Regions from separate parts of the Homo sapiens genome. Here all the other regions are linked to region 2. The links come from fine-mapping of genetic effects on gene expression. A gene starts in region 2. Each other region holds a variant in brackets. All regions are shown on one strand. Distances are between the middles of the regions.

Region 1 (7,714 bases), 87 kb after region 2:
CCAAGCAGGATATCTACAGGGCAGAGGAAGGCATTTTGGCAACCTTGTCCTGGTACCCAGAGGGATGATCCCAAACCCTCACGATCTGATGGACTCCTTCCTTAGAATCTCCATTCACCCCACTTAAAGAGCACTGTCACCAGGTATTGCACACATTTCCATTTCTGTGCTCCTTCAAATGGGCCAGCAATGCTCTCCAGTCCTCGCAAGTCCAGCCTGTATTACAAAGGCCATGCCTTGTGGCAGGATGACTGAGACAAGTCCCTGTCTTCAAAGAACTCTCAGTGTAGACGACACAGACGGGTAGATAATGGCTTACGGGGACACAGGCACCGTGAGGCACAGCGTCGTGGCAGAGACACTGGCTCCTTGTCATGGGGGTGGTGCTTAGTGTGGGGAAGTCAAGGCAGGCTCTATAGTAGAAAAGAGTATGGAATGAAGAGGATGTTCCAGGGCTCCCTCTGTCCTTCAAAGAAGCCAATAGGCTCCTTCTTCCATCTCAGCTTTTGCTTTCTTTCCCTCCCACTTTTCACCCTCTAGGCTGAGAGGAGTCCTTCCCATCCTTCGAAAATAGCACCAGGTTCCTCCCCACCTCCTGATGTCTCTGCAATCCTAATTGCCTAACCCCAACTCCATCTGTTCAACTTCACCCTTCTTCAAGGTCAGATAAATGTTCCCTGATGGAACCTTCGCAGTCCCGGCTGTCTGCACTCCCTCAGGCTGACGCTGAATCTCTTACGTACTGATGGCTGAATGTGGGGTCTTTGTCTGCAGCTCTACCAATCAAAAGCCCTGAAGGATGATGACTGTGCTGCATATTCAGTCCCCCAACTTCCCTAACCCCATTATCTAGCCAGAGCCTTGAACCCAGTCAGTGCTTGACATGGGCAATGTCCCCTTTGTCCACCAACTTGCACCCTGCCTGTCATCCAGCTTTGTCTGGTTGTTTGTTCAGGTCCTGCTATCTTGCAACAATTTTGAGGGTACAACATCCCCACAATTGTAACTTAAAATCTATATGTATGTGCCGGACATTTTACATCTTCTTCCAGCATCAGCACAGCAGGTGCTAAATGAGTGCCTGTGGTCTCTCGACACCCCTGGGAAGCTCCCGGTTGGAGAGGGTGGTGGGGAGATACTGCACAGACAGCCAAAGAGGCAACGGACTGACTGTCAAGATCAACAGCTCTGTCTATAAACCAACTGTGTTTTTCCAAAGAGTCTGGACGCTTTTTGGAAATGAAAATTCAGGTACATATTATATAAAATGGGGCCCAGCCTGTTTACAACGGGGTACATTTAGTGCTGCATTAAGAAAACCAGAACAAAAAGTACTTTGAGGTGTCAGGTCCCAGAAACTTGTGATCAAACACAGACCCAGAAGAAGCCACTGCAGAACCACAGCCTTTTGCGACAGTATAGAAGATGTGGACGTACTGACTGTCCTAACAGCTGGAGTAGGGATGTTTATTCTAGTCACCATCCATCAGTCTAGGTGCATTTATGGGGGAGCTACGACACTGACTTCGGGTTTGCTTCTTAAATTTAATCTTAATAATGTAAGATTCCCCCACCCAACCGCCGTGGTTTCTAACCAACTCTCCACCTCTCTCCCCGCCCTATGATCACAGTGCCTCTCTCCCATTTTACCCTCACTGACTGCTACCCTCCCTGGCCCATCTATCAGCAGACAAAAGGAATTTGTGAGCCCCAAATCTGATGATCTATGTATAAAAGTCTAATGGGAAGGGCTATTTTAAAAACAGCACAGCTTATGCTTTCTAGCTTTCCTTTGCATGAATTCATGATTCTTGGCTGGCAAAACTGAGCAGAGATGGGCTGCCTTTGAGGTCTAGACTAGCAGTCAGAGGTGAGATCAAGAGCTAGCCTCAGGTTGTAAGGGAACACAGCAGTTTCCTTCGTCCAAGAAGTCTCCTAACAAGAAAGCCAGCTGAATCAATGTGCTTAGTGTTAGAGCTGACAGCTCTTGTTGCGAATGGATAACAAGCAGTTCTCTGACTGGTGGCAGTGCCACAGACCACACTTGGAGGGGCAGAGCCTGCCCTTTTCTTCATGGAGTTAAGAGTAACTCAAAAGCTAAAGAAAGCACAGTGATCCTTCCCCTCCCCTCTAGGAAGGAATTTACACCTTGATCAAAAACTTGGTCACAAGTAGCAACTAGACCTCCAGAGTACTGACAAGGCGGAGGAGACCCAGCGTTCGCCCTTCGCACCTGCTGTGGTGCGTGCCCCAGCCCCGCCTGCATTTGTACCGTGTGCGCCGCTTCTCTCCATTATTTATGTCATTTCCCAAAGGCCAAACCCACCACATGGGTGCTGGAGGCCAGCCTCTGACTTTGAGATTTTATTCCTGAACAGCTCCTCTCTCCCTCTCTCCAGAATTATCAGTGTTCTCCCCTTCAGGCCATTTCCATCAGCCTATAAGATATTCTCAATGCTGGTGCACTGTGATGGATAAAATCCGTTTAAATCAACACAATAGGGGCTTAATATTTCCTTGGGGTCTTGGAATTTTTTGGCAATTTCATTGACTCTCTCTCCAGAAACCCCTCACACTCATAAAACTGTGCCCAAATTGGAATGATTGATGGACTGAAGGTTGACACCCTTAATCTAGGAAGCAGAAGGCAGGTGGCTGAAATCACAGGCTCTGACCAGGTGGCTCTGACAGGAGTCCAGGGGAGGGAGAAAATGTCAGCCCTCCCATTCTTCCCACATACTGTTTCCCTATTTAGTAGCCTCTTGTTTAATAAAATCACCGTCAAGTGGCATGACTCAGTTCCCCCACCCTTCTCCCACCAAAGGCACCATATTGCCTTTGTAACCAGAAGATAAGATACAAGAAATGACACGGCTCCTAACAGAGGGCCCCTCTCCCTGCTCTCTCCTCTTGGCCTATGATGATGTGTTCTCCTACAACTGAATTCTGAGGCCAGAACCTCTCAAGTGGAACCAGCAGTCAAATCTATATTATTTTTGTGTCCAGCTCTACCTGTCTGAAAAGACCAAACAAGTCAGCCACATGCAATATGTATTGCGCAGAAACATTTCTGACTCTGGAAATTTAAAATCATAAACCAGACTAATGTGGGCCTCAGGGTCAGGAAGCACCACTATGTCTAAGAACCCTATTGTCACCATCCATCAATGTTTGTCTCCTGCTGGACAGTGGGCTCCTGGAAGGCACATCTCTTATTCCTGGCCCTCTTGCCAGGATATGGCACAGGCGTTGCACATGGTAAGGGGGCAATGTTTGTGGAACGGTTGCAAATGGGAAACAAGAAAAGTGACCCAAGTTCAGATTCCTTTTGCTGCCTGGATTCACTCCCATCTGCAGATCGGTAGAAGCCTATATAAATAATGTGCCTTTTGTCATTGATCATGGCAGCCAGATCTCTTACCCATGCTGGCAGGGATTATTTGGGTAGCATTTGACCCAAGTGATAACCCAAAGTGCCAACTTTTGGTAGAAACTATGCCTGACAGCTTTCTAACTAGCAAAAGCCTTTCCAAAGGTAAGCGGGGAATTAAGGGAAGATGTGCTCCACTCTGCTCTACCCAGATACCCTGCGACAGAAAAGCAGGTATCGTCTCATGCCCAGAGGCTGCACTTCCAGGATCATCCCTTTATTCCTTTCTTCATTCCACCAATCTTACTGAGCTACCACCAGGAAGCTACCACCAGGCATCATGTGAGGTACCACAGAGCCAGAAGCAGAAGACTCAGCCTGAGACCTCAAGCAGCTGCTCACCAACAAACAGAGAGGCAGACATGGAGTAGTGTTGGTAACGATGGTGCATAGTAGGCCCCCAACGGATGCATGAGCAGAGGACAGGGCTGGCTCTGGCTGGGGTGAGGATGCTGTCTCAGAGAAGATAACATTTCCCACAGGCCTTCAAGGATAACAAAGAGGAAGCAGGGTATCTAGACAGAGGCGCATGGGCAGGGAAAGGTCTAGCATGCCAACAC[C/T]TGGGGATGGGGTGGGGACGAAGAAATAGCAGGGAGGGAATGGCAGGAAATGAGGCAGAAATATACAGGGGCCAGTGCTTCATGGAGGACTTTGAATATTCGACTAAGAAAATTGTATATGCTTTCTCAAGCAATAGGTGGCCAGTGCCAAAATATCACTGCAAGAGTGGTCTGGTCAGCTTTGGGCTTACAAAGGGAGTAGGTAGAAGGGCTGAGGCCAGAGGCAGGGAGATCATTTTGAAGGCAGGGAGGCATAGAAGCTCAGGAGAGAGAAGGGCAGTGCAGGTCTGCATGCCACAGAGGCGGCCACTGACGCTCTGGCATGTATGCATCTTACCAGGCAAGAAGGGGACCAGGAGAGGGCTCTGGGAAACCTCAATGTCAAAAGGACAGGATGGAGCCCAACAAGAAGCCCAATGTAAAGTTCTAAGGACAGTAATACTTGGTTTCAAGTATTATTTGCCATTAAAAGTAAATCTAGAACAGATGGGGTCATGAAGAACTGAAAAAAAAACAGTGTCAAATTTTCTCTCCAGCAGGTGGAAAAGGTACTCTAGGAAGATCATGAAGAAGCTCTACTCTTGCAAGGGACCCTGGAGCAGCGAACAGAGCCCTTGAAGGCAGATGAGGACTCAGTGCCCATTCTGCATCAGCTCTGCACAGCAGCATGAGGACAGCACCAAAACACTTTCTTCTTTCCCCAAACCTAATTTCTCCTTACTTTTTCCAGCCCAAGTAGCTAGGAGTATAAATTAGTATATTTTCAGGGTAGAATCAAGATCAAAACACTTTAAAGGACTAAGATGGGAACGAAGTATGGCTCACTGGAGAAGGCCAGTAACCGCAGCAAACAACATGGCCTAGAATGCAGCCTGGACAAAACGCCAGATGGGTAACATCCCACAAAGAGAATCCCAGACAGACCAGGCTCTTCTTACTCCACAGAAGTGCTCTCTATACCTGCTGCAGCCAGCACTTTGAAAAAGGCCCTTCTTAATCAATCTTCCTCCTTGGAGCAAGAGAACTTGTTGGAGAATTCTAGCAGCTGGAGGGAAAGGCTTGGAGAATGGGGCTTGTGTCACCTAAACTAGGGCCTGCTTTTGAAAACCCTACAGAGGTCTAGTTGACCCCAAGTTGAAAGCAGGACCTAGGCTGCACCAGGTCAACACCCAGCTGGTGAACTTTCCCTTCGGGAACCCACAATCGGCTAAATCACCTGCTTGCTTTTCCCGGATGCTTTTGCGCTTCGGCTCCTAACTACCTTCCACTCTTGCCTGACCAGTGCTCCAAAATGCCTCCTCCCCTGAGGTGAGATGGCCTCTTCCATCATGGAGGCTTCCAGCTCGGAGTTTTCTCCCTCTGTCTACTTCCCACCTCCCTCTGGGTTGGCAGAGGCTGGGTCATCTCATCTCCCATGACCTTGGGCCATTTCCCTCTAAATATACTCTCTTAGGAGGCCCAGTTTCTCCATCAAGCTCCCTTACATAAAATAAGTCCTTAAGGTCAGATTTCTCAACTTTCTTTAACCGTTCCCTCTTGAAATGCCTTCTCACCTACCAGTAAGAATTTTGTCTTACCTCACTTTCTATACTTATTTTATGAAGCAACTGAAACTCTGCCAGCCTGTGTCCCCTAACAGAGATACTGACGAGTCCTGCTAGAAGGTGTACCTGACTCAGTGGAGAACTCTGCCATGAGGGACCCTTTTACAAAGCTCCTCCCATGAGACAAAGGCTCTCCTGAGAGGAGGCTGAGGTCCCATGTGGCCATCTCCTCAGAATATTCCTCCTTCTGCAGCCTTGACAACCTTGTTCTTCAGCCCGACTACCCCACCGACCAGGAGGGAGGAGGCCTCCCTGGCTTCTTTGTGAAAGACCACTTGCTCGGGCTGGGCTTGTGAACACCAAAGAGAAGAGCAAGAAAAAAAGGGCAGGAAAAATTTTAAGGAGGGCATTGCTTCTTGGTGAACCGATACTCTCCCACTCATCCCGGCACACGATATAAACTCAACCTCCCCTGGCCGGGGGGAACGCAGTGACAGTGCTCTTCAAGTGTGGAGATGCTGCTGCTACTGTCTTAAAAGTTCTCCCAATTGTAACGTGAGGTTGTCTAATGCTATGAAGATATCTTGCTGAGTGAAACTACAAGCAGTACAATTTCCAGCAAAAATCAACCATTTAAAAACTCCGATCTATCAGTACTGATTATAGCTTAGCTACTCACTTCCCTTTGGTATCGCCTATCTGTTCACGCGCTACTGAACTCTCCTCCCAGGTTTGGAGATCTTCTGGGCAACTGTCAGCCTACTGGGCAGTGCACTACTGGGCTGTCAATGCACTGGCCGGCTGAAGGGAGCAAGCACACACATGAACACACACGCATGTGCACACACACACACTGACACACACACATACACACCATGGGTGAGTGTGCTTTCTCTTCAGCCTAGAGCAAGCTTTCAAAAACTTCAGAGCTTAATCATCTGGCAAGGGAAGACATGGCCCAGGTATCTGGGAAATGTTCCACAGAGAGGTTCCATGTTGCATTTCTCAAGTACCTTCGATGTTCTTACTTTGCAACCTTTTCCATCAGTCCAGACAAATATTGTTCAAAGAAGTAAAGGTGAGAGGGAAGCAAACCAAAATCTCAAAGGAAATTAAGATGAATTTGGAAAAGGAGGAAATGTTTATGTATGTAGATATGGACAAGTCACAGTAGATAATAACATCTGGCCATGCATTAGGTGCCAAATTTGACCCCACTGCAATCACCCCAATTAATCACTTACAAATGTCCTTTCTTTTTGGTCCACAAAGATCTGATAAAGATTGCATAGAGATTAATTCAAATTAAAGAAAGGAACAGTTTGGAATTAGAATTTCATGTAACTATGGAGTATGTGAAACCATCCATTTCATAATCCATGCCTAACTTAATTAAATCAGTGTCGTCAGATACCTTACACAGAGATAACTAACTGGGTCACTGAACTCTGTCATCTCTAACTCTGAGAGTTTTTGGCTGTACTGGGAAAGAAAATGAGGGCCAAATATCCCACATTTCAGCTTGGTGTGGCTCTTCTGTCTAGGCTTTTAGAATGAGGGAACATCCTTGCTTGATGATGATGAGGGTGGTGGTGCGGGTAGGAACAGCAGTGGCCGACAGTCCGCAGCGTGGCGCTACATGCCAGGCACTCTGTTAAGCAGTGCGTATATGGGAACTCTTTACTCCTCATGACAACCCCATGAAACAGCACTATTAGCGTCCTCATTTTATGGGTGAGGAAGTCGAGGCGCAGGGAAGAAAGGAACTTGTTTCAGCTGTAAGTGCCAGAGTAGAGATTTGAATCCAGTCCAGTTCCACAACTATGCAATTTGACACTGAACTACACTGCCCCTCATCTGGCAGCCACTGACAAGTGGGGAACTGAATTCACTCCCTCCCAAAGGGGTACAACACGCTGAGTCGTCGAGCACAGTTGAACACATTTCATGTCTCATTTTGTGTTAAAGTCAAGTGAAATTTTTCTAAATTAAGCAAACAAAAGATGGTATGGCTGTGAGAGGTCTGCAGCTGGTATCAGCACTTCCCTTAAAGGGTAAAAAGGATGCTGCAGACCAAGAACAAACAAAACAAAGTCTTTAGACTAGATATCTGAAAGTATAATCAGGGTCAAATTCTTTCTGATGGGTTATGTTCAAACATTTTCTCTAGTGCTCAAGTA
Region 2 (7,277 bases):
AACGGTCTGTGGGAGAGAAAAAACCAAGCGTCACGTTGAAGCCGGCAAACCACAAGCTTTCCTTTGCCAAATTAGGCAGAACACCATTTTCCCCTTAAATGCATATACAAGTGACAAACTTTCAAAGAAAAGATGAACTGGTTCTGCTTCACAGCTTAGGGGGGAACTAAGCTGTCCCACTGTAGGCTATGACGGACCATGGATTAGCCATCAGTATACCTGATCCTCAAGCCAGTGCATAACCTCACTTGAAGACCACAGGTGGGTCTCCATCTGTCTCTGGATGTCATCCTTCCCTGCTGCAAGCAGGGGATGACTTGGGACCGATGTGAGGCCCCTTCACACTCTAATGTTTAACTCTAGGTTTTTAGGACGGCCTAGAGTATTTACTGGGCTACCCCAGGTTAAGGAGTAGCTATGCTAAGGAGATAAACAAAAGAAAGCTCTGAATGCAGTCCATGGTACTTTCCTCAGGTTCTTTAAAATGTTCCCCTTCTAACACAAAAGGACTCACTGAGCAATTCACGAAACCATAAGCAATTATTAGTGTTCAAGAAAGGCTGGTACTAAATCGTTTGAAGTTAGCTGCTCGTGTTTTTTCATAAGAAAAAATAATTTGTGCTTTGGTTCTGGAATAAAATACTGAACCTAAAATATTGGGGCTTTAGGCAGCAGCAAGCTCAAATGACAAGACTCAATGTGATACGTCCAGCAGCTCTGGAATATGCTGCTGAGCATCCACATTTCCAAACACCTTCTAAGATCTCCTTTTGATGGTTTGAATGATTTGAGTTTGGGCAAAATTGTCAATCATTTATTTGTCTTTTAAAAAATGAACTCTAAGGGATATCATCAGATTTTTTTTTCCTTTTTCTGAGACAGAGTCTCACTTTGTCACCCAGGCTGGAGTACAGTGGCGCAGATCTCGGCTCACTGCAACCTCTGGCTCCCGGGTTCAAGTGATTCTCCTGCCTCAGCCTCCGGAGTAGCTGGGATTACAGGCGCCTGCCACCATGCCCGGCTACTTTTTGTATTTTTAGTAGAGACGGGGTTTCACCATGTTAGCCAGGCTGTTCCCAAACTCCTGACCTCAGGCAATCCGGCCGCCTCAGCCTCCCAAAGTGCTGGGATTACAGGCGTGAGCCACCGAGCCCGGCCAGACTTGACTTTTTTTTTTTTTTTTTAACAAATGAGCCATCATACCAGGAGCTGAGTTCTTATCAAACGGCCGGTGAGAGGCCAAGCAACAACCCTAAATGCTACCAAGCTCAAATTGTTGGCCTTGCAGCAACTACAGCAAAAGGGATGAATTCTTCCCTTTAGTGCAAAGAGCCAAGAGGGCTTCTGAACTGACACAGAGGGGAAGGATAGGAGCTGAAGACATCAGGAAACAGTGAATGGGGTTTGTCCACCAGCAGGTGACTACGGAGCTTGATGCTATATGCTATTCTAAGAGGGCAGCGGTATCATTTCAAAGGTTATTTGGGGGATGAGCTATTTTCTCTTCAGTGACCCAGAAGATTCCCTCGATCATTCAGGGTACTGGGGAAGAAAGGCAACTGCCTTCACGAGTGAACATGGCAATCAATATGGCCAAAAAGGGAGGGGGTACTAATGGAGAAACAGTTCTTGTGCCCCAACAGGTGAGCAGACCCCAAGTAACAATAACTACGTGCCAGGCCCTTCGCCGCTAATTGCAGGCCATGTCGTTATACCTTAAGAGACCCTGGTGGGTTCGGTACTGCCCTTCGTTTTACCGTTCGGGACTTGGAACTTGGTGAGCATAAATGACAGAACCAACAGTACAGGGTGGCATCTGAGACCGGGTCTGTCTGATTCCCACGCCCCTGACTCAAGCAACCTGACGCCGATGTCCGGGGCTGCCCTGAGGGTGCAGGCATGCCCCTTGAGCCGGCAGTCCGCGCACGCCTTCGGGGCAGCCTGGACTGGCGGATCAGACGACGTCAGGATCTGGGCTCGAGGGCCGGGAGATGAGGGAAGAGGTGCTGGCGGGGGCTTACCGGCTCTCGGGGTACGGCGCTCCTGCACAGCGCGGCCAGGCTTAGCAGCACGAGCGACATCGCCGGGCCACTGCGCGGGATCCAGGCCACCCGCACGCTGCGCTTTTATCCCGGCGCCGCCGGGCCGCCCCTTCTCGGCTCCGCCTCTCGCAGCGCCGACCCATTCCCGCCACCCGAACAGAGGGCGGGCCCGCTGGCCCCCTCCCAGGCTGGGGCAGGTCGCAGCGCCCTCGCCTGCTGGGGCTCGGAGGGATGGGCCGTGTCCGAGCGCTGGCGGAGCACGGGCCGCCGCGGCGCGCGCCTACCCCCGCGCACACGTGCATGCAGTGAGCCAGGTGCATCAGCTGCACCCGCCCTCGGGCTTCGCGCGCCTCCGCTGGAGCCCAGCTAGCCTCGCGGCTCCGGGGCCGACCGGGTCGGAACTGCTGCGTCCCCATTCCGGACGCAGAGAGCGCGCGGGGCGCCGGCGCCGCCGGTTAAAGTGCCGCGGGGCAGGGGCCGGGCCGCGGCCACCCGCTCCTCCCGCTCCGGTCCCGACTGTCGGGCTCTCGGCCGAGTCGCCCCGGGTGAGTAGCCGCGGAGGCGCCCCGACCACCCCGCAGCAGCGCCGCCCGGCCGCTAGCCCGGAGAGGCCTGGGGGCCGGAGGTTTGGGGCCGGGCTGGACGCCGAGACCCGGGCCCGCTTTACACAATCGCCCCGCCGCGCGAAGCGAAACGGGTGGAACGCAGACTGCCGAAGCTCACTGACTCCTTTGAGGGAGCGAATTCTTTCAGCTACGCGGGGTTAGAGCGGTAGGAGTGCCCGCTGCCCGACCCCAGGCTTTCTGGTAAATGTCTGTTTCCACCAAGTGAGTTCGGACAGCAACACCTGGGGCTCCCAAAGCGGAAGCCGTCAGCACTGGCGATTTGGAGCTGCGGTTCTCAAGTTTCCCTGGCCCGGGATCTCTAGCGCCGCCTAAAATGAGATCCAGACGGCAGGTCCGGGTCAGGCCCGGGATCTGCATTTAACGAGCCTCCACCCACGCCCCCGTAATTCGTGGGTGGGTGGCCCAGGGACCATCCTTTGAGACACAGTGGGTTTGGGGGAAAGTTCACAAAAATCAGCTGGGCTAACAGTGGAGTCACAGAGGCTGGAACTGCTGCTTCAGCCCCCTCGGTTTGCAAACGACAGGGTTGTGGTGACCAACTCAGGGCCATTTAAACTTGTAGGCAGAATTAGCTCCATTCTACAGATGAGAAGACGGAGGCCTAGAGAGGGGTATGGAACTTAGGGGTGTGTTGTCAGCTGGTGAGAGGCTGTACTAAGTCAAGCAGCTGTTTTAGCTGAGGCCCTACTTGTGTGCCAGGCCTGGCCCACCTGCCAGCTTGATTAAGGCTTGCATGGACTGGGGATCAGCCAGGGGTTTGGGCTCTGGCATGCATACGTGTGGAGTTGCAGGTAGCATTTTCAGAGAATTGCTCTGTTTCCTGACCAAGGAACTCAGTTGAGGTTGTGGCCGCACCCCTGCCTGGGACTGGGCCACCCTGAGCCCCTCATTCCACCTCTCTGAGTTGCTTTGGGCCCTGTGGCCCTTGAGAACATTTTCAGCTCTAATAGTCATCTTCCTGTTCAGCAAATACCTGCTGGGTGCAAAGGTGAACCACACATGGGTGCTGGCTGATGGGTACTCCTGGAGTGAGGATGAGTGCAGTGAGAATTATTTTCAAGGACACAAGTACCCGCCTTGCTGCGGAAGCCCAGATGAAAACAGCCTCGTCTGCAAGCTCAAGATTGTGAACTTTGTCCCATGGTGCTGAGGAACAATGGTACAGGCTTAAATGGTCATCCATTTTTGGTTTTAGAAAGGCCACCTGGTTGGCTCTGCAGGGCAAAATAGAGGGCTAGTCCCTCTGAGACGAGCGAGCAGGCAGCCATTCACTAACATGCGTTCATTCCGTGAGTATCTGATTCTGTGCTGTGGGCCAGGCTCTGGGCTGTGCTGGCTTTTCAGTTGTGTGCCAGGGCAGGCCCTGCTGTGAGCTTGGTGTTGTTCGGCACACAGGCTTTGAGACAACCAGGGTGCGGAGGTTAGGCCTGGAGACAGGGTTCATGAGTCAGACTTTCTCAGGGGGCAGTGGAGAGGAGAGGAGGATAGAGCCCTGGGGAGGAGAGCTTGCCTGAGGAGGTGGGGAGGTCTAAGGGGCTGCAGCAGGAAAGCCCAGTAGTGAGGGAGGAGCTCATGGGGTCAGATGGGGCAGAGAGACCAAGGGCACTGAGGCTGGTTGGTGGCAGTCACAGGAAGCCTTGGCAAAAGGATAGGGGAGGGGGTTTTGTAAAAAGAGAAGGGCTGAGGTTCTTTCTCCCCCCAGGGGAAGAAGTGTCAGGTGAGGGTGGTCTGGAGGTGGCTGAGCTGTAAGAAGGAGGAGTACTCAGGCAGGGGCTGCCAGGCAGAGACCCAAGACCCAGGCCAAGTGGCTTTCCTGCTGTTCTGGGTTCAGAATGACACTGCCCTGGCCCCCTGGGGCTTAGGGATGGGGTGATACCTGGTTCAGTTTCGTAGTTGGGGCTGTGGAGTGGAGGAGAGGGTGTGAAGGGCCCTGTAGCCACAACTGGAGGTTGAGGTGGGCAAACAGGTGTGTCTGCCTGTCCCCTCGGGGGTTTTCCCCCCTAGCTCAGAAGGCCATGCCTCAAGTGGCCCTGCATGAGAGGTCCCAGGTGGCCTGCCGGAAGGCACACAATTTATTTGGCTGCCTAAGCCTGATGACTTTGTGGCTTTTTGAACTGGAGGCTCTGGCAAGTCACTGCTCTTCTCAGAGCAGTTTCCTTTTCTGTAAAATGGGGTGGTGATAGGGGCGATGAAGTGATTTGAGTCTATGAGAGAAGCGACCTTTGGACATTTTCTGACCTTCTCCCTTCAGTCATAAATTCTGCTAGGTCTGGGTTTCTGAAAGAGCTACCAGCCAGTGTGCCTTCCTGTCCGGGGGGGCTTTGTAGGGGGTGCTCATTAAATGCTTGAATGGATGAATAAATTAACACCTACCTTCATCCAAGGCCAGTGCCTGAGCCTGCCCACCCAGGGGAGCTGGTTTGAACTTCCTCCTCTTTCTTCACAAGCAGAGCAAAGGTCAGGGCCTCTGCCAGAGCCTGGAAGATCACTGGGTCAAGTACCTATGGCCCTGACCCAGACCCTAGGGTCTGCACAGACTCTGTGCAGCCACAGCGCGGTGAGATGCCTGGCTTCCAGACCACCTGGTTCTGCGGCTCATTCACCATCTGTTGGCCTTGAGTGAGGCTCTTAGTCTTTTGGAACCTGTTTCTCCATCTGTAACATGGGGCTGACATCAGTTCTGCCTCCCCAGCAGGGCTGTTAGGAAACGCAGAAGAAACAGCAAAACAGCAGATAGGAAAGCAAGTTGAAGGATTTAAGAGTGCTGTGTAAATTTAGGGGCAGGAGAGGCAGAACCAAAAAAAAAAAAAAAAGGTGGGGGGGGAAATTCCCTAGGACCCAAGAGTCACGGTAATCCCCAGATTCTGTCATTGTTATTCCGACCTTTGCTTCTTTGCCTGATCCATCCCTGGGAGAACAAGGCCATCAGGGTTGTTGACAAGTCCTGCGGGTCCAGCCTCCACCCACACAGGTGGAATTTTCCAGTTCGTTCTTTTGCAAATATTAATCAAGGCCCTGGCTGGTCAACAGTGGATTCATTGTCTCGTGAAGAGTGAGCCGTTTCTGGCACATACTGGCTGTCTCCCAGGGCCCCTGGTGGTGAGCCGGAGCTGGGAGAGGAACTGTTGGGAGCACTCCTGGCCTCGGTGCTCCCTCAACCCCATGTTCTGCTCCAGCTGGTTAAGCTTGGCAGGGTCAATTTTAATGCCTGCTTTGAGGGAAAGACCCTGAAGCCACACTGAGGGCTTGCACCCCACTGTTCCCAGCAGGGCTACAAAACACATTTTCTCTGCTCTAGTAGGAGGGGCTGGCCCAGGAAAGCCCGCAGACTCAGGCTAGGTGTTAACTCAGCGTTAATCCCACTCCTCCTGGTTCCTAGGAGAAACCCCTTGAGGTCACATACATGTGTTCTGTTCATGGCTGTGGTCCCTGTGCCTTGTCTCCTGGGTACTTGCATTGATTTTTACATTGTTGTTATCACACTGGGGTCTCAAAGAAAGCCTCGGATGCAGAGGAGACAGGTACTGTTGTCGTTCTCTCAAAGCTCCATCTGTAAACAGGGGTGATGAAGTTAGCCTCATAGGGCTGCAGGGAGGATCACCCTGTCACCCTACGTTGGGCCGTATGTTGGGCACATGCAACAGGATCGGTGGTATATTTTTTGATCCATGATACTTGAATTTATTTGTTATTAATAATATATGGGTCGTAGATGTAGCATCACATTCCACACTTTATGGAGGAAGAAACAAGATGAGTGAGGCTATGTAAGAAGAGGGAGGATGAAACTCAGGCCAGCTGTGAACTTGATAAAATCACTATGTGGTTTGGTTTTAGCTTTGCGCTTTTCTTTTTTTCTTTTTTCTTTTTTTTTTTTGAGACAGAGTGTTGTCCTGTTGCCAAGGCTGGAGTGCAGTGGTGCAATCCGCTCACTGGGCTCAAGCAACCCTCTGAAGTAGCTGGGACTACAGGTGCACACCACCATGCCTGACTAATTTTTTCTTTCTTTTTTTATTGTTTAGAAATGGGGTCTTGCTATGTTACTGAGGCTGATATTGAACTTCTGGCCTCAAGCAATCCTCCTGCCTTGGCCTCCCAAAGTGCTGGGATTACAGGCGTGAGCCACTGCGCCCAGCCTGTGAGTTTATTTTATAACTTTATATTTGTGATTTGTGTGTGTGTGTGTATCATAGTTAGAACAGCGATACCATTTTCAGGAGCACACTAGAAACCTAGGGCCATGGGTGCAGGTTGATGTCTTACACTAGTCCCAGCTCCTGATTAATTTCAGTACTTTAGTGATAGAGTGATTTCCAGTTGATACAAAGAAGCAGTCAGTTTTTCAAACACTCACCTTGCAATCTTAGGACCCTCTGCGGTTAAACCCACCCAGAAGTCTGAAGAGGAAACAGCAGTGGGCATGTGTGTGAAAATTGGCTGGCTAACCTTGGCTGGCCAAGGTGCTTTGACCAGCAGGGGCACCCAGCACACAACCTGGACCTTGCAGTGAGCTGTGAAGCTGCCACTGCACTCCAGCCTGGGTGACAGAGGTGTCTGCTGGAAGTGGCTCTGCTTGTACTGGTGTGGAAGTGTGCCAATGAGCGCAGAA
Region 3 (7,714 bases), 21 kb after region 2:
TGTTGAAAAGACTTTCTTGCTCTATTGTGCTGCCTTTGATGACTTGTCAAAGATCAGTTGGCTACATTTATATGGGTCTATTTCTGGGCTCTCTGTTCTGTTCCATTGATCTATTCACCAATATGACACTGTTTTGATTACTGTAGCTTTATAGTAAATCTTGAAGTTGGTTAGTGTCAGTCCTCCAATTTTGCGCTTCACTTTCAGTATTTTGTTGGCCATTCTGTGTCTTTTGCCTCTCCATATATACTTTGAACCAGTCTGTTAATATCTACAAAATAACTTGCTGTGGTTTTGACTGGGACTGCATTGAATTTGTAGATGAAGTTGAGAAGAACTGACATCTTGACAATATTGAGCCTTCCAATTTGCGAACATGAAATATCTCTCCATTTATTTAGTTTTTAAATTTCATCAGGGTTTCATAGTTTTCCTCATATAGATCTTGCACATATTTTGTTAGATTTATACCTAAGTATTTCTTTGTGATGCTTATTTATTTATTTAGGGGCAGGGTCTTGCTGTCACTTAGGCTGAGGTGCAGTAGTCCAGGCTGGAGTGCAGTGGCTCAATCATACCTCTCTGCAGCCTCAAGCTAGGACTACAGGTATGCACCACCACACCCAGTTACTTTATTTTTTACTAGTTATTTTTTTTTAGAGATGGTATATTTAGTCTTTTCTCTCATTGCTATAAAGAACTACCTGAGACTAGGTAATTTATAAGAAAAGAGGTTTAATTGGCTCATGGTTCCACAGGCTTTACAGGAAACATGGCTTGGGAGGCCTCAGGAAACTTACAATCATGGCAGAAGGTGAAGGGGAAGCAGGCATGTCTTACATGGCTGGAGCAGTAGGAAGAGAGAGAGGAGGGGAGGTGCCACACGCTTATAAACAACCAGATCTCATAATTCACTATCATGAGAACAGCAAGAGGGAAGCCTGCCCCTATAATCCAGTCACCTCTTCCAACATTGGTGATTACAATTCGACAAGAGATTTGGGTGGAGGCACAAATCCAAACCATATCAGATGGGGTATTTCTATGTTGCCCAGGCTGGTCTCAAACTCCTGGCCTCAAATGATCCTCTGACCTTAGCCTCCCAAAGTGTTGGGGTTATATGGGCCACTGCACCCAGCCTGGGGTGCTAATTTAAATGATATTGTGTTTTTAATTTCAAATTCCACTTGTTTGTTGCTGGTATATAGGCAAGCAATTGGCTTTTATATATTAACCTTATATCCTGAAACCTTGCTATAATTGCTTATTAGTTCCAGGAATTTTTGTTGATTCTTTTAGATTTTCTATATGGACAATCATGTCATTAGCAAACGAAGTTTCATTTCTTCCTTCCCAATCTGTACCTTTTCCTTTTCTTGTCTTACTGCATTAGATAGGACTTCCAGTACAATACTAAAAAGGAGTGGTTCAAAGGGACATCCTTGCTTCGTTCCTGGTTAGTGAGAAAGCTTTGAATTTTTTACCGTCAGGTATGATGTTAGTTGTAGGGTTTTTGTAGATATTCTTTACCAAGTTGGGGAAGTTTCCTTCTACTCTTGGTTTACTGAGAGTTTCTATCATTTAATGGATGTTAAATTTTGTCAAATGCTTTTTCTGCATCTGTTAATATGATCATGTGAGTTTTCTTTTTCAGCCTGTTGATTATTTTTGAATGTTGAACCAGTCTTGCATACTTGAGATAAAGCCCACTTGGTTGTGGTATATAATTCTTTCTATACATACTTTGATTCAATTTTCTAGTATTTTTGTTGAGTGTTTTTATCTATGTTCATGAAAGATATTGGTCTGTAGTGGTTTTTTTTTTTTATTGTAATGTCTTTGTCTGGTTTTGTTATTAGGGTGATGTTAGCCTCACAGAATGAGTCAGGAAGTAATCGTCTGTTTCTATCTTCTAGAAGAGACTGTAGAGTACTGGTATAATTTCTTCCTTAAATGGTTGATAGAAATCACCAGTGAGCTTAGTCAAGCTTGGTGCTGTTTTGGAAGGTTATCAATTATTGATTCAATTTCTTTAATAGATATAGGCTTATCTGGAGTGTCTTTCTGCTTGTGTGAGTTTTGGCAGCTTGTATCTTTCAAGGAATTAGTCCATTTCATCTAAATTATCATCTAATTTATTTTTAAAGATGTATTCCCTGGGTATAATTTTTCAATTTCAGTAAACTAGGACTAGAGGTTTTTTTTTCTTTCAATATTTAAAGTTGTCACTCCATTATCTTCTGGATTGCATGTTTTCTGAGAATTTTACTGTCATTGTTATATTTATTCCTCTGCATATGTTTTTTGTCTGGCTACAGTGATGATTTTCTCTTTATTTTGAAGTTTCAGCAGCTTAACTATGATGTACTTAGATGTGTTTTTCTTTGTACTAATCCTGCTTGGGATGCTCTAAGCTTCTTGAATCCATAGTGTTTTGTCTTGCACTACGTTTGGGAAAGTCTCAGCAATTATCTCTTCAAATATTTCTCCTCCCTTGTTCTCTGTCTCTTCTTTCCGCCTTGCCCTCCTTCCCCACTATTTCCCCCTCAGACTCCAGTTATCTGTACTTTAGTTTGATATTGTCCCAGAGTTGTTGGTTGTTTTTTCTCTCTTCCCCTCTTTATATTTCCAGATTCTTTTCTGTGCTATATCCAATTAAAAATTGTTCTTCTCTAACATTGTATTTTTTTCTTGCATTTATGTTTTTTTCTATAGTTTTCATTGTTTGGCTGAAGTTTCCTATCTGTCCACCTTTTCAACTATATCTTTTATAATGCTCACCTTGGTTAAAGTCCCTGTTTGATGGGTTCTAACATCTGGGTGCATTACTCCTTGGTCTGTTTCTGTTGACTACTTTATCTCTTGATAAGGAGTCATTATTTGCCTTGCTTTTTGGTATGTATCCTAATTTTTTATTGAATGCTAGACCTTGTGTGTAATGGGATAGTGGAGACTGAGGTAAACAGTATACCTAGCAAAGGACCTGTCTTTCATTCTGTTGGGTTGTTAGTGTGGAGTGTTGTCAGTCTGGTGGGGAGTGGTGTGGGGCCTGGAGCTCTGAAGAGTTCTTCTCAGTGTTCCAGCAGCCTCAGACATACCATTCAGGAGGCCCCGCCACCTCTGTCTCCTATGCCTGTGCAACGGTGGACGGGAGGAGGAGAAAGAGCCTCTGCACTCCAGTGGTAGGCTGCTGTTACTTGGTGCAGGGCTTGTGGAAGGGGTGGTGAGATTTATCAGGGTTTCCTTTTGTTTCAGCCTGTCTTGGGCAGGCCTTGTTGGTCTGAGCCTCACGGGTGGGGTGTTCTCAGGTGTTCTTTTCAATGGAGGTTTTCATGACATATCCTGTTTCTTTTCTACCTCTGTGCACTATGCTGGGATTGATTTGAACATTGTTAGGAAAGGGCCCTTTCAAAGCTATTGCCATTTTTCTGTTAAAACGCTAGCATTCTACAGAGTGATCTTTGAAGAGTGTAGCTCTGATCTTGAACCTGCTTCAAATCCCTCTAGTGCTCCCCATGGCCCCTCGGGTCAAAGGCTTTGAGCTCTACAGTCTCGTGCCTCTCATGCTGATCTTCCTTCAGTTATTTAAGTCTTGTCCTTTTCCCAGGCCCTAAACCATCCGTTTTGAGAGCAGATGTCTTTCTGTGTATTGCTGCAGGAACTGGGTGGGGCAGGGAACAGTGCCTAGCACATGGTAGGGGCTGAGCCCACTGTCTTGAAGGGATGAGTACAAATACTCTGTTTTCTTTCTCCCTTGGAAAGCCCTTTGCCCCCCTGCCTTCCAGCAGGCAGACTCCAGCCCAGTCTCCAGGTTCATACACAGGGCACAGGGAAGCATTTTACCCCTCAGTTGGGGGAGGGGCCTTTCTGCTGCCCCATCCCCTGGCCTGTGCCTGTCCATCCTGGCACATACAAAACAGTTCTGAAATTCCTGTGTGTCCCTCACTTCCTCCTCCTAGTTCCTTTGAGCAGCCACATCAGGCTGGGCCTGCTGCACCCTGTCCCGGCAGGCCGTTGGTGAGCATACCCTGGATATGCGGAGTTAAGATTTTTAAAGCCCCTCTTCCTGTTTTAGGGAGAAGTGAGTCATCTCATTCCCCTCCGTGGATCAGAGGACTTGGACTAGATAGAAGCATGTGGTGTCTCCTACGAGGCCTGGGCCGGCCTGGAGCCCTGGCACGGGGAGCCCTGGGGCAGCAGCAATCCCTGGGTGCCCGGGCCCTGGCCAGCGCAGGCTCTGAGAGCCGGGACG[A/C]GTACAGCTATGTGGTGGTGGGCGCGGGCTCGGCGGGCTGCGTGCTGGCTGGGAGGCTCACGGAGGACCCCGCCGAGCGCGTGCTGCTGCTGGAGGCCGGGCCCAAGGACGTGCTCGCGGGGAGCAAGCGGCTCTCGTGGAAGATCCACATGCCCGCGGCCCTGGTGGCCAACCTGTGCGACGACAGGTACAACTGGTGCTACCACACAGAGGTGCAGCGGGGCCTGGACGGCCGCGTGCTGTACTGGCCACGCGGCCGCGTCTGGGGTGGCTCCTCATCCCTCAATGCCATGGTCTACGTCCGTGGGCACGCCGAGGACTACGAGCGCTGGCAGCGCCAGGGCGCCCGCGGCTGGGACTACGCGCACTGCCTGCCCTACTTCCGCAAGGCGCAGGGCCACGAGCTGGGCGCCAGCCGGTACCGGGGCGCCGATGGCCCGCTGCGGGTGTCCCGGGGCAAGACCAACCACCCGCTGCACTGCGCATTCCTGGAGGCCACGCAGCAGGCCGGCTACCCGCTCACCGAGGACATGAATGGCTTCCAGCAGGAGGGCTTCGGCTGGATGGACATGACCATCCATGAAGGTAGTGGTCTCCCTTCTCTTTTTAAAAAAGCACTACCCCCTACCCCAGCCCCCACCCATCTTGGCCCGTGGCTCCAGGCTCCTGGCTCCAGCATGGTCAGGAGGCATGGGCAGACTGAGGCTGGCACGACCGGGAAGAGATCTGGCTTAGTATACCCCTCCAAGAGTACAACCCGGAGCCCTGAGAGTGACCCAGGATGGTGACCCTGGGCGTTCTCTGCACCTCTGGCCCCTGTTGGTGTGGATAACAGAGAATCAGCTCTCTGGACAGAGAGCCTAACTCCTCTAGGGACTTGCACATGGGGAAACTGAGGCACAGAGTGGTGAAGGGCCTTGCTCACAGCAGGACAGAGGCGAGCCAGGGCTGACCCGGGGCTTCTGCCTGCCTCTTGAAGGCTCTCACCCCTCTGGCTGTGCTCCTGGTCTCTGTGTCCTCCTGTTTGAGGGTGAAGGGTACTTTTCCACCTGCCTCCAGGGGACCCCAGGCAGATGTGGACTCAGTAGGGCAGGGTCTTGCAGGGTCTTTCCGTCTCAGCTTTACTTTGAAGGCGGGACTTGCAGTCAGAGCTGGGCATATCCACTCTTTCTTTCTCCAGCTCCTTCCTCCTGCCCAGGTGCCAGGGGAGGGCGGAGCCATGCCTGACCACCTCACTCCATCCTGCAGGCAAACGGTGGAGCGCGGCCTGTGCCTACCTGCACCCAGCACTGAGCCGCACCAACCTCAAGGCCGAGGCCGAGACGCTTGTGAGCAGGGTGCTATTTGAGGGCACCCGTGCAGTGGGCGTGGAGTATGTCAAGAATGGCCAGAGCCACAGGGTGAGTGGACTGCAGCTGGGGTCCTGGAAGAAGGGGGTGGGCAGTGACCCTGGTGGTCCAGCTCAGAGTGGGCAGGAGTCACGCCCTCACCCCCAGACCCACGTGCTCATCCCTGTGATGGCGGGGGGAGGGGCGAGTAGCTGATGGCAGTGGGCTGGTGGAGGTGAAGAAGCCCCTAGTCCTGCCACCGAGAAAGGGCCTATGGTGTCAGTGCCCCTGTGTGCCATGCCTAATTCAGAGCTCTCCCCCAGTACCTTCCACACCATTTCAAGGCACCGATGTCACAGAAAGCTATAGGTTTAAAGCTATAGGTTTACACTAGAGGTTTTAAAACCCATAAATGTGATTGTACTCTATTTCTGTGTTGTTGGCAGGGGGTCTGATTGTTTTGCAGCTTCATGTGTAGATCTGGTTCACCGCTTGCTCTCTCTAAACCACCCACTTGAATGCCTGCTTTCATTTATCTCGTGTAAGCCCTCCCCTCCTGTTTCTAAGGCTGTCACTACTGTCCAGCTGTAGTTGCACCTGCTGGTTGCTTTCAAGTAGTGACTCAGTGAGTTTCCTCTCCTTAGCTCTGGGGCCTGTCCCGGGTGTGCCACAGGATTCTACATCCCAAGGCTGTGTTCTCATGGTGCTGGCTAGAGTAGGGCGCTGGTCTGTGAGTCAGGAGAACAGCTGGCTTTTCAGGGAGTGACCTGGCTGGACCTCTTCCAGGCTTATGCCAGCAAGGAGGTGATTCTGAGTGGAGGTGCCATCAACTCTCCACAGCTGCTCATGCTCTCTGGCATCGGGAATGCTGATGACCTCAAGAAACTGGGCATCCCTGTGGTGTGCCACCTACCTGGTGAGTCCCCTTCTTTACTGCTCCCCAGAGGCTGTCTCTGCTCAACAAAAGGCTTAGTGTATGTATCTTATTAGCATGAAGTGGGGAGGTGGTGGCAGTCAGTGATCCTTGGAACTATCACATTGTCCCCGAGAGCCCGAAGGTTTCCCAGGCCTCACTGGACACTGTCATCCCTGGGCCCCGAGTCTTGCATTGTTTTCCTTCTCCCTCCTCCGGCTGCCCTATTTCATTTGGAGAAGGGCACCCTGCAGCAGGGAGTATCTGCCCTGAAGCCCCACTGGGTCGGGCATGGGCGTGTCACCAGGGCAGCTCTATGGCGAGAGGGGTCCAGGCCTCGTCCTTCCATCCACAGGACTCGCTGGCTGCCCTGAGCATGAATGAGGTCAGCTCCGTGCTCCAGAGCCTGCTCTTCATGTTAAGATGTAAACTTTGTTTTATAAACTGTCTCTGATGCTCTTGAGGGTCGGGCTCTGTCTCTTGCCCTCCTTGATAACCCCACTCCGGGAGGGCTAGGCCTTTGTGCCTTTAGGCTTCATCATGAGGGGCCCGGGGAAGTGCTGCTTCATGATGTTGACCTGCCCAGTGTCCCAGTAGGCTTGGATGAATTCATGCAAGGACGGTGTAGCACGACAGGGCTGCTTCCTCCTTCCCCACGCTGGCGTGAGGGTGGGGCTGCTGTCTGCCCCTCTGGCCATCACCATCCAGCAACCGCTCACCAAGCAGTGCCTGCTGAAGGCGTAGGCCCTGCCCTCACAGAGGGGGCTGCTGAGCAGGGCTGACAAGGGGCACCCAGAGGCTGCCGTAGGAGTGAGTGACAAGGACAGGTGGCCTTGGCAGCATCCGAGGCAGGCCAGACTTGGCCAGGAGTGCACACATAGTGTCTCTGGGAGGCAGCCTTTAAGCTGAGACCAGGGAACTGAGCAGGAGCTGGTCCAGAAGATAAGGGAATAGGAAAGAATTTTTCAAAACCGGGGGGATATTGAGAAGCAGCTGAGCCCCCTTGGTAGCCATTTTCTAAACCACTCCTTCCCGTATCAGGGGTTGGCCAGAACCTGCAAGACCACCTGGAGATCTACATTCAGCAGGCATGCACCCGCCCTATCACCCTCCATTCAGCACAGAAGCCCCTGCGGAAGGTCTGCATTGGTCTGGAGTGGCTCTGGAAATTCACAGGTGAGCACGCTTACCAGTAACCTGGGAGGAGACTGCCTATAAGCA
Region 4 (7,714 bases), 44 kb after region 2:
TCATGGAAGATTCCAGATGGAGACCAAGGGCCATTACAGGACTGGAGGCCTGTGCTGAGGGATGTGCTGGCAGTTTTGATCCCTCAGCTCCAGGGCAAATGTGGATCGCAGATGTCCTGTGAGCCAGGCTCTCACCCACTCATTTCCTCCGTGAGAGCCCCTCTCCTGAGTGCCTTCCCTCTGCCAGGTGCTGGGCACCAAGGACACCAAGATGCATGAAGCATGAGCCCCACCCTCAATGGGCTTAGAAAATGCCATGAGCACACAGAAATCAAATGCGAGCTGGAAAGGGCCAGTGCTGGAAGAGAGGAACTCATGCGGTTCGTGAGGTTTTCTTTTCTGGGGGTTGGGGGAGGGATTTCAATTCCAGTCATGGAAATAAAAAGCAAGGCCCTAGAGCAGGCCCTCGACAGGGGGGATGAGGCCAGCAGACGGAGTGAGGGCATCCAAGCAGGGGCCACAGTGTGAGCAAAAGCCCTAGAGAAGGGAACACGAGTTCATCTGGCTCAGAGTCAGTGGTTTCAGAAGTCAGGCATTTGAGAGAGGCACGGGGAAGGGCTGCGGGAGCAGAGGGTGAGGGTCAGGCTGTGGCTCAGATGCCAGAAGCCACCTCACTGCCATTCCACTTCCACTTCACTGGGCCCCTGGTCACAGTGAGGTGCGGTTCAGAGAAGAGGGTGGAGGGCGATTTTCATCCGCCTGTGCCGCCTGCTACGCCTCCTAAAGCAGAGTGCCCATTGTACTAACAAACATTCTTTCTGTAGGACAGAAGCAAGATGGACCCCTCTGCTGAGTGACCCCTCATTTCTTCATCTCCCCGAGAGACCCCTTGAAGTGGCAGGAGGCAGGTGCTGTGCATGAGGACCTGGCCCAGCTCCAGGCTGGCCAAGCCGCCGTCCACACAGAGCCCTGGGGCCGCCAGAGCTCCAAGTGTTAATTCAGCAAAAACTGATCTCTCCAAAGACGGGTGGTGGAAAGGCATTAACCCAGCCACGAAGCAGGCCCATCTCCCATTTCCCAAGCCTTCACTAAAAGGCCTCAGAGGCCCCTAGTGGAAATAAGGCAACAGGTCTGAAAGAATAGCCCTCACCCTGCCTCTCTGCGGCTCTCTTTCTCCAGCTCCACTCTCCCTCTGGCCTGGAGTTTCTGCTCCCATTTTGCTTTTTAGGGGAAGCCCAAGTGCAGCTGCCGGTGGCCCTGGCTTCCGGAGTGGGCCGAGCACCAGGGCAGGGCGGCCTCCCGCTCTCCACAGGAGCCAGAGCAGCTCACCTGCTCCAGGTGGGCGAGCTGTCATCCTCGTAGCATTCCTCACTACTGAAATACTCCTGCTCCCCCAAGCAGTGGGGGTCCCTGAAATAGCCATGTATCTCTGGGTCTTCCCGGCAAATAGTTGGGAGCTGTTCATCTCCTGAGTCGGACCTGCAGTTGGGAGAGAGGATCTGAGAACCTGGGCAGGCGGCAGATAATTCCTGCTGCAGCTGCACCTCTGCCTGTGGCCGGCAACCCTGCCCGGGTGCTCCTGGCTTCTCCCAGCGCGCACCTGCCTCAGGCAGCACTGGACTGTTCCGGCTTCTGGCAACAGCACCGTGTGTGTGTCTGTGTGTGTGGTGTGCCTGCGGGCCAGGATAGGGTCTCTCTCAGTGCCCTGCACAATGTTGGTGTCAAACCATTGTGTCCAGAGGCCTTGGAGCCAAAGGAATAGGTGCAATTTGGAGAACAGAACAAAAAAATGGACCTAGGGAAAAAGACCCTGGGTTCCCAGGGCATCTGCTCTGATCCCTCCCTCTCCTTCTAGTCCCCCAGCTCCAGCCCAGTGTGACTTCAGAACCTGGAACAAAGGAGCTTCCTGGCCACTGACCTCCTGCTGTATCAAATCAGGAAGGTCGAGTGAGTTCTGGATACAGTGCCACAGGGGAAACTGTCACAGAACATGTCCACCATGTTTCCAAAGGCTGCCCTGCCCCAGGAATGTGGTAAGTCTCCCTGAAACCCGGCTCATCCTGGCCTCAGTCCTCAGAGAAGGACGTGGTGATGTCAATCCTCTCTCCAAAGGAAGGATGGCACTTCCTCTGACTTCTCCACTTTCTTGCACCCAACTTGGGCCCACATGGCTCCCGACTTCACTTCATAACATGACACAGGAAGACCCATCCTCCCTTGGCCCCCAACAAAATGGGCATTCCGCCCACAATTCAACTCAGGTCAATACATGTGGAGTGGAATATACTACACATATCTTGAGGGCTACAGGGAAAATGACAAGATCCCATTCCTGACCTTCAGGAGGTTTGGGTCATGCTGCAAAGCACCCACAAGAAGCTTGACCCCAGAGAGCAGCCGGAGCTGCCAGCCACACAGGCTGAGGCCCCTGTAAATGCACAATGGATGCTCCTAGTGCCATCGCGAGGCCTGCAGGAGCCAGCCCATGGGGTGCACCTTGTGTGTGGACACCAGTCCTTGGATGGCAACAGAGTCGACAGAGATATGGATCTGAAGGTGCCTTTGCTTAGAAGCAACAACCTCTGACCTCTGAGTCCACAGCCATGAATTATGATAACCTTTAATAGGCTGGCTCAAAGAAGTGTTTCTCATTCTTCAGCACTCAGAGAGGCCAGCTGGTAACATACCATCACAGTATTTAACACAAAAACAGGTAATGAGCACATACCTAATGTAAGTTTCATAATAGCGGGTTCTATCCAGGAAAGGCATAACATGGGAAGGAGGGAGAAGATAAAAGTTAATTTCCAACCAAATTTACAATGCAAACATCAGGCTACCTCCTAGAGTAGGGGTTAGCAAATTATGATTCGCCATCCACATAGGGGCTGCCACCTGGCCTTGTATGACCCATGGGCTATGAACGGGTTTTATTGTTATAAAGGATTGAAAAACATAAAAAAGAATCTGAAGACAAAAAATATCTCATCATATGCAAATATATGAAGTTCAAATTTCAGTGACCATAGGGAAATTTTAATGGGCACAGCCACACACCCATTCACTTACATATTTCACACTGCAACGGCAGAGCTGAGAAGGTGCAAGACTGTATGGTTCTCAAAGCCTAAAATATTGACTCA[C/G]TGACCCTTTAGAGAAACAATTCACCAACCCCTGTCGCACAGTATGTGAGCACAATTGAGAGGTGGATTTTGTGGCTGCTGCTGTTTTAAGGTCCCTCGGCACCCCACACAGGATGTAGGATGGCACGTGGCCCTTATCCTTTAGGTCCATCACGTGGAGAGTGTCAGAGGCAGCAGTGACCTGGGGGGCACTCACAGATCCTGACACAAATGCCTACGGGGAACCTCCTCCATGCCCCAGAGCACAGAGCACAGACCCGCCTTGCTCCTTGGGACTAGACGCAACACGGGCAGACACCACATGAGCAAGTCCAAACACATTGTCAAGGTTACCTTTTCACACTGGACCTTCTCTGAGGCTCCCGGTCATGCTTGTGGGAAGAATGATGCCCATTTTCAGACACATGCTCAAGGTTCCCAATGCTGGGCCGCTTTCCATGGGCAGCTTTGGACATATTGGCATTATTGAGATTGGCATTTGTTGAGGTGGGAACTTGCTTTCCTATGGAATTATGGTTATGATGGTTATGACACACCGAATTTCCTGCTGGAGGAAACAGCGGTTTCTCAGTATCACTTGCAGGTGGAATTGAAGGCCTTTGGACATGCAGGGGACGGTGGGTGGTATTGGTCTGCTGAAGGGAATCTCTCCTATCACTATTAACATGATTGACATGGTTTCCAAGCAGGGCACCATTTCTCTGCAAAATAATGGGAGACAACACCAGGTAATTTAACAAGTATTTGATGCAGACTAGCTATGTTAGGTAACTTTTTCTACATGAAAAACAAATTCTAGGCAAGCTCCGTAGGATCCCTGTAAAACAATCTGAGTGTCTCAATGATCAGGGTGAATGTGACTGTGTGGCAGTTGGTCCCCCCGAGATGAGGAAGGTTACCGATTTCCTGAGCTGGGGAGCAAGCTGTCGGCTGTCACTCGAGTGTGCTCTTCCAGTTGCTCCAAGTTGGGGTGACTTATACCCAGCTGGGCTGGCTGGTGGCCCCAAGGTTGGGCATGCTCTCTGGGCTGGGGGACTGACAGCCAGCTGGCAGATCAAAGAGCTGGCCCGGGAAGGAGGAGGGTAGCAAAGGCAGCTGCCGGAAGGACTCAGGATGCTCATCCACAGGGCCAGCGGCTGTGGCCGAGCTCCTCAGAAGCAGGCAGTGAGGGGAAGCTGGGTAAGCTCAGGGAAAGAGCTGGCCTGGCCCTAGAAGAGGTGCTGATGCCTGGGGAGGGTCTGTAAGAGGGGGAGGGTGTGGTCTGAAAGCCCCTCTAGGCCCTGGGGATGGGCTGCATTCTCCAGACTCTTCTGTGGATGATTAACTGCCCAAACTGGAGTCCTGCCCTGCTATTTCCAGATGGCCAGTGTGTAGCTAGGCGTGGAATAATTACTTTGAACACATCATCTTCTTCTTCTCGTTTTGTTTCCTCAGGCTCGTCATCTTGCAAATCACACGATATAGCACGCCGGATTTCTGGCCCAATGTCATGCAGTGTCCTTAATCCCGCCTAGATCAATGAAAATGGCAGAACAGGTTAGACCACACATGGGCCCTGGGGCCAGCCTGGGTCCTGGCTTTGCTCCTTCCTGATTCAGCGGTGGGGAGGAAGGCTTCCCCAAAAGCCAATCCAGGGCACTGACTGATGTCACTGAAGGCAGTCTAAGGGTTGTTGGTATGGTCAGGCATCCAGAGGGTCAAGAAGGTCCTAGGTAGGATGCCTGAGGCCTGCAACCCCGTAACCTCCTTTGCAAAACCCCCACTTCCAAGGAACACTGCCTGGTTACTAGTGCTAGGATCTGCCAGGCCAAGAGCTTATGCCCCTGTCTCAGTGACAGTCTTCAGTAGGCTCGCCTACAAGAGCCCTATCTCTCCAAGCCCAGAGCAGGGCAAGGAGCACAGCCTGGCCGATCTAAAGGGAGGCTGATGTGGACTCCCTTGCTGCATCTAGGATGAGGAAGCCTAGGTGTAGGTGCCAGAGGCACAAGCAGACCAAGCAGTCCTCAGGCCACTGGTTCTGCTAAAAAGCCATGGAACGAGTGAGTGACACAACACACTGCAACCACCAGCACACTCGGACCACGACGGAGCAGACTGACACGCACACCGACCCGGCCACCGTGGTCATCAGGATACCCTGGCCTGTAGCCTGTGTGCAGGCTGAGAACTCACCAACAGGGGGTCCGCTTTTTGAAGATCACAACAAACTGAAAGTGGCTTATCAGCCTTTGCAGGCAGTGCAAGACCCACCAGAAGACACCCCTGGTAGATCCCTCTGGGCCCGTCACAGATACTCTGCATCTCCCCTGGCGCCCTCACAGCTGCCTTCCTCACTGTGGTCCCTGCTATGTTGAGACAGGGCCCAGGATAAGCCCTTCCATTGTTCATGACTTCATTAGGGAAGCATTCCAAGATGCTTATGCATGGTGCATGGAGGAAGGTACTGCTCCAGCTCTGAGAGAATGATGATGTTTTGACCACCAGTTTGAAGGAAAACAGTATGCTGAGTTAAAGACTAATAGGGACTGTATGGCAACTTTATTCTTTTCCACAGAAAGTCCTGCATCTGAAGAAGGCATGTCCTCTCTGCCCTGGGTCTACGGTCCTGTATCCAGGCAGCCCCTCCTCACTCACTGGCAGTCTGTCCACAGCTCTGTAGCCCTAAAGGCCTGGAGAACAGCTAAGACAATGGATGTGCAGCAAATGCTTCAACCTCAGGGTGGTTTGCAAAGGAAAACTGGACTAAGTGGTGGGTCCTCGGAGAGGAGACCGCTTCCCTGTCCTTCCTCCACAACACCTCTTAGCATGTGGGCAGCTGTGGCAAGGACAGATAGGCATGATGACCATCCCTGAGACAAGCATGGGGTAGAACAGATGCCCAGAAGTGGTTCAGGGAGGAGGAGGGGATGGTGGCTGCAGTCTGGCCAGATCCATCAGGGCTGGGTCCCACTGGTCTGGGGATGCTCAAAACTGGTCTCCTGCAGTTGCCAATGCCAGTGCTGGTGATGATAATTTAGAATGTAAAGTCACACAGGAACTTCCCAAGAGGCCCTTATAAAAATAGCCTGGTGCACAAAAGCACCAAGCCTTTGAGACAATTCTGCTAAAAATGGTGCCAGGTTGGGTTTGGTTTGAACCATTCTGTGAAGATAGAGCAGCAGATCTTTCCATTTAGTGAATTCTGAAGGTGAAGGAAGAGCTGGGAATGAAAGCTTTAAGCTTCCTGACTAGGAATGCTGAGATCTTATAGGGGACAGACAGTCATGTCCCGGGTCAAACCAAGACAGTTCTTGGGGTGGTCAGGGAGGCTGCTTCTTGCTCTCCTGTCCCTCTGATCACAGGCTCAGGATGCATGTGTGTACACATATGCACATGTGGGTATGCTTGTGCATACACGTGCGTGCACGTGCACACACACACGCACACACACGCACACACACACACACACACGCACACATACACACACTTTCCCTCTCTCAGGATCCACGAGTTCAGCACATCTGAGCCTGGGAAGTCATTTGGTTCTGAGGTGGACCCACCTGCCATTCTCATGGAAACATCAAGAAGGCAACTGTAATGCTATGTTGGTAAAAGCTCTTACACAGCACAGCTGCAGGAACGTGAAGAAAGGTCATACCCGGCAGTACTAAACAGCCGCATTTCATTCATTCAGAGCTTCCTAGGGTACATCATCAAGGGATGGTGAGCTAAGCAAGGGGTTCACTTCTGATTTTGGATCAACTGGGAAGAAAACTCGGTTACATATCTAAGGCTCCCAAACAAAAAGACAAGGTTTAAGACACCTGCTGCTGCTTCCACAAAATAAACATAGGTTATAATGCACTTAAGTCAACACCCCCAAGTAAATTTGGTACATTAATCCATATTACAAGGCAGTAAAGGCCAGAAATGCTCCCAAGTTTAAACAACATATAATCCTATTTACTGTCATTCAACTGATTGGACTAGGTCTGATTAAAAGAAATAGAAAACTATTTATTTGGATAATTTTTAACATCATCCTCTGTTGACGGGTTGACATTTCACTGAAATACACATATAACATAATTGCATAATAGAAACAAAAACTGTCTCCAGCACATCTTCAGTGATACACAAGATTAGGATTTAGTCGACAAGATAGTGCAATGAACAGACATGGGACAGAGAATTTGTTTGCAACATAAATCATGGAGAAGGTTGAAAGGTGGCCCAAGTTGCCACTTCCAAAGACAAATAATGACAACATATTTATTAAAGAGACATTAGAGGAGGAGAGAAGAATCGCTCTTCCCAGACACAGAAGCAGAGAGTCAGAAATCATGATTATATTCTGCTTGTTCCAGGCAGGAAAAAACAGACCTCATAAGAGTCAGGGACTGACTCTACTTTTTCACATGTGTTCTGGGTAGGGCCAGGTCAGGCTGTCCCCCACGACTGGGAGTGAGGGAAACAGATGTTCCCAAACTAGAATTGACATGAAGCTTAAGCACAGCACCCTGAATTTATTACATATCACAAAACATGGTAATGAAGTTTTTCTAGCACACATATCAAGCTAAAAGGTAGCTTAGGCTGCTCCCAAAATTCCATAGGCACAAGTTCCAATCCCCAGAAATACAGAAAACTAT

Evidence for each region. PIP is the estimated chance that this variant, and not a neighbour inherited with it, causes the effect.
Region 1: its variant is the best candidate, but not a certain one, in a credible set for the expression of CHDH in whole blood (TOPMed, PIP 0.88).
Region 3: its variant is the best candidate, but not a certain one, in a credible set for the expression of CHDH in nucleus accumbens (GTEx, PIP 0.78).
Region 4: its variant is the best candidate, but not a certain one, in a credible set for the expression of CHDH in putamen (GTEx, PIP 0.83).

The regions. Positions count from the first base shown.
Region 1 is chr3:53,754,009-53,761,722 of GRCh38, reverse strand. All of the region lies in intron 29 of CACNA1D (calcium voltage-gated channel subunit alpha1 D), which reads right to left. Among named protein-coding and RNA genes, the nearest start is that of CHDH, 89 kb to the left of the region's middle. RefSeq lists enhancers at 7,512-7,611, 7,702-7,714. The variant C/T (reference allele first, on the strand shown) is at 3,991.
Region 2 is chr3:53,841,393-53,848,669 of GRCh38, reverse strand. It overlaps CHDH (choline dehydrogenase), which reads left to right and starts at 2,251. Exons shown (of 9, transcript NM_018397.5): 1 at 2,251-2,587. IL17RB (interleukin 17 receptor B) reads right to left here and starts at 2,102. Exons shown (of 11, transcript NM_018725.4): 1 at 2,022-2,102; 2 at 1-6. The coding sequence starts at 2,081. RefSeq lists enhancers at 2,054-2,348, 2,295-3,135, 3,136-3,976 and a silencer at 2,054-2,703.
Region 3 is chr3:53,820,429-53,828,142 of GRCh38, reverse strand. It overlaps CHDH (choline dehydrogenase), which reads left to right. Exons shown (of 9, transcript NM_018397.5): 3 at 4,076-4,837; 4 at 5,501-5,652; 5 at 6,367-6,496; 6 at 7,535-7,669. The coding sequence starts at 4,135. Among named protein-coding and RNA genes, the nearest start is that of CHDH, 22 kb to the left of the region's middle. RefSeq lists an enhancer at 4,247-4,846. The variant A/C (reference allele first, on the strand shown) is at 4,253.
Region 4 is chr3:53,797,128-53,804,841 of GRCh38, reverse strand. It overlaps CACNA1D (calcium voltage-gated channel subunit alpha1 D), which reads right to left. Exons shown (of 48, transcript NM_001128840.3): 41 at 4,477-4,593; 42 at 3,417-3,784; 43 at 2,669-2,695; 44 at 1,270-1,419. Among named protein-coding and RNA genes, the nearest start is that of CHDH, 45 kb to the left of the region's middle. RefSeq lists an enhancer at 1-350. The variant C/G (reference allele first, on the strand shown) is at 3,084.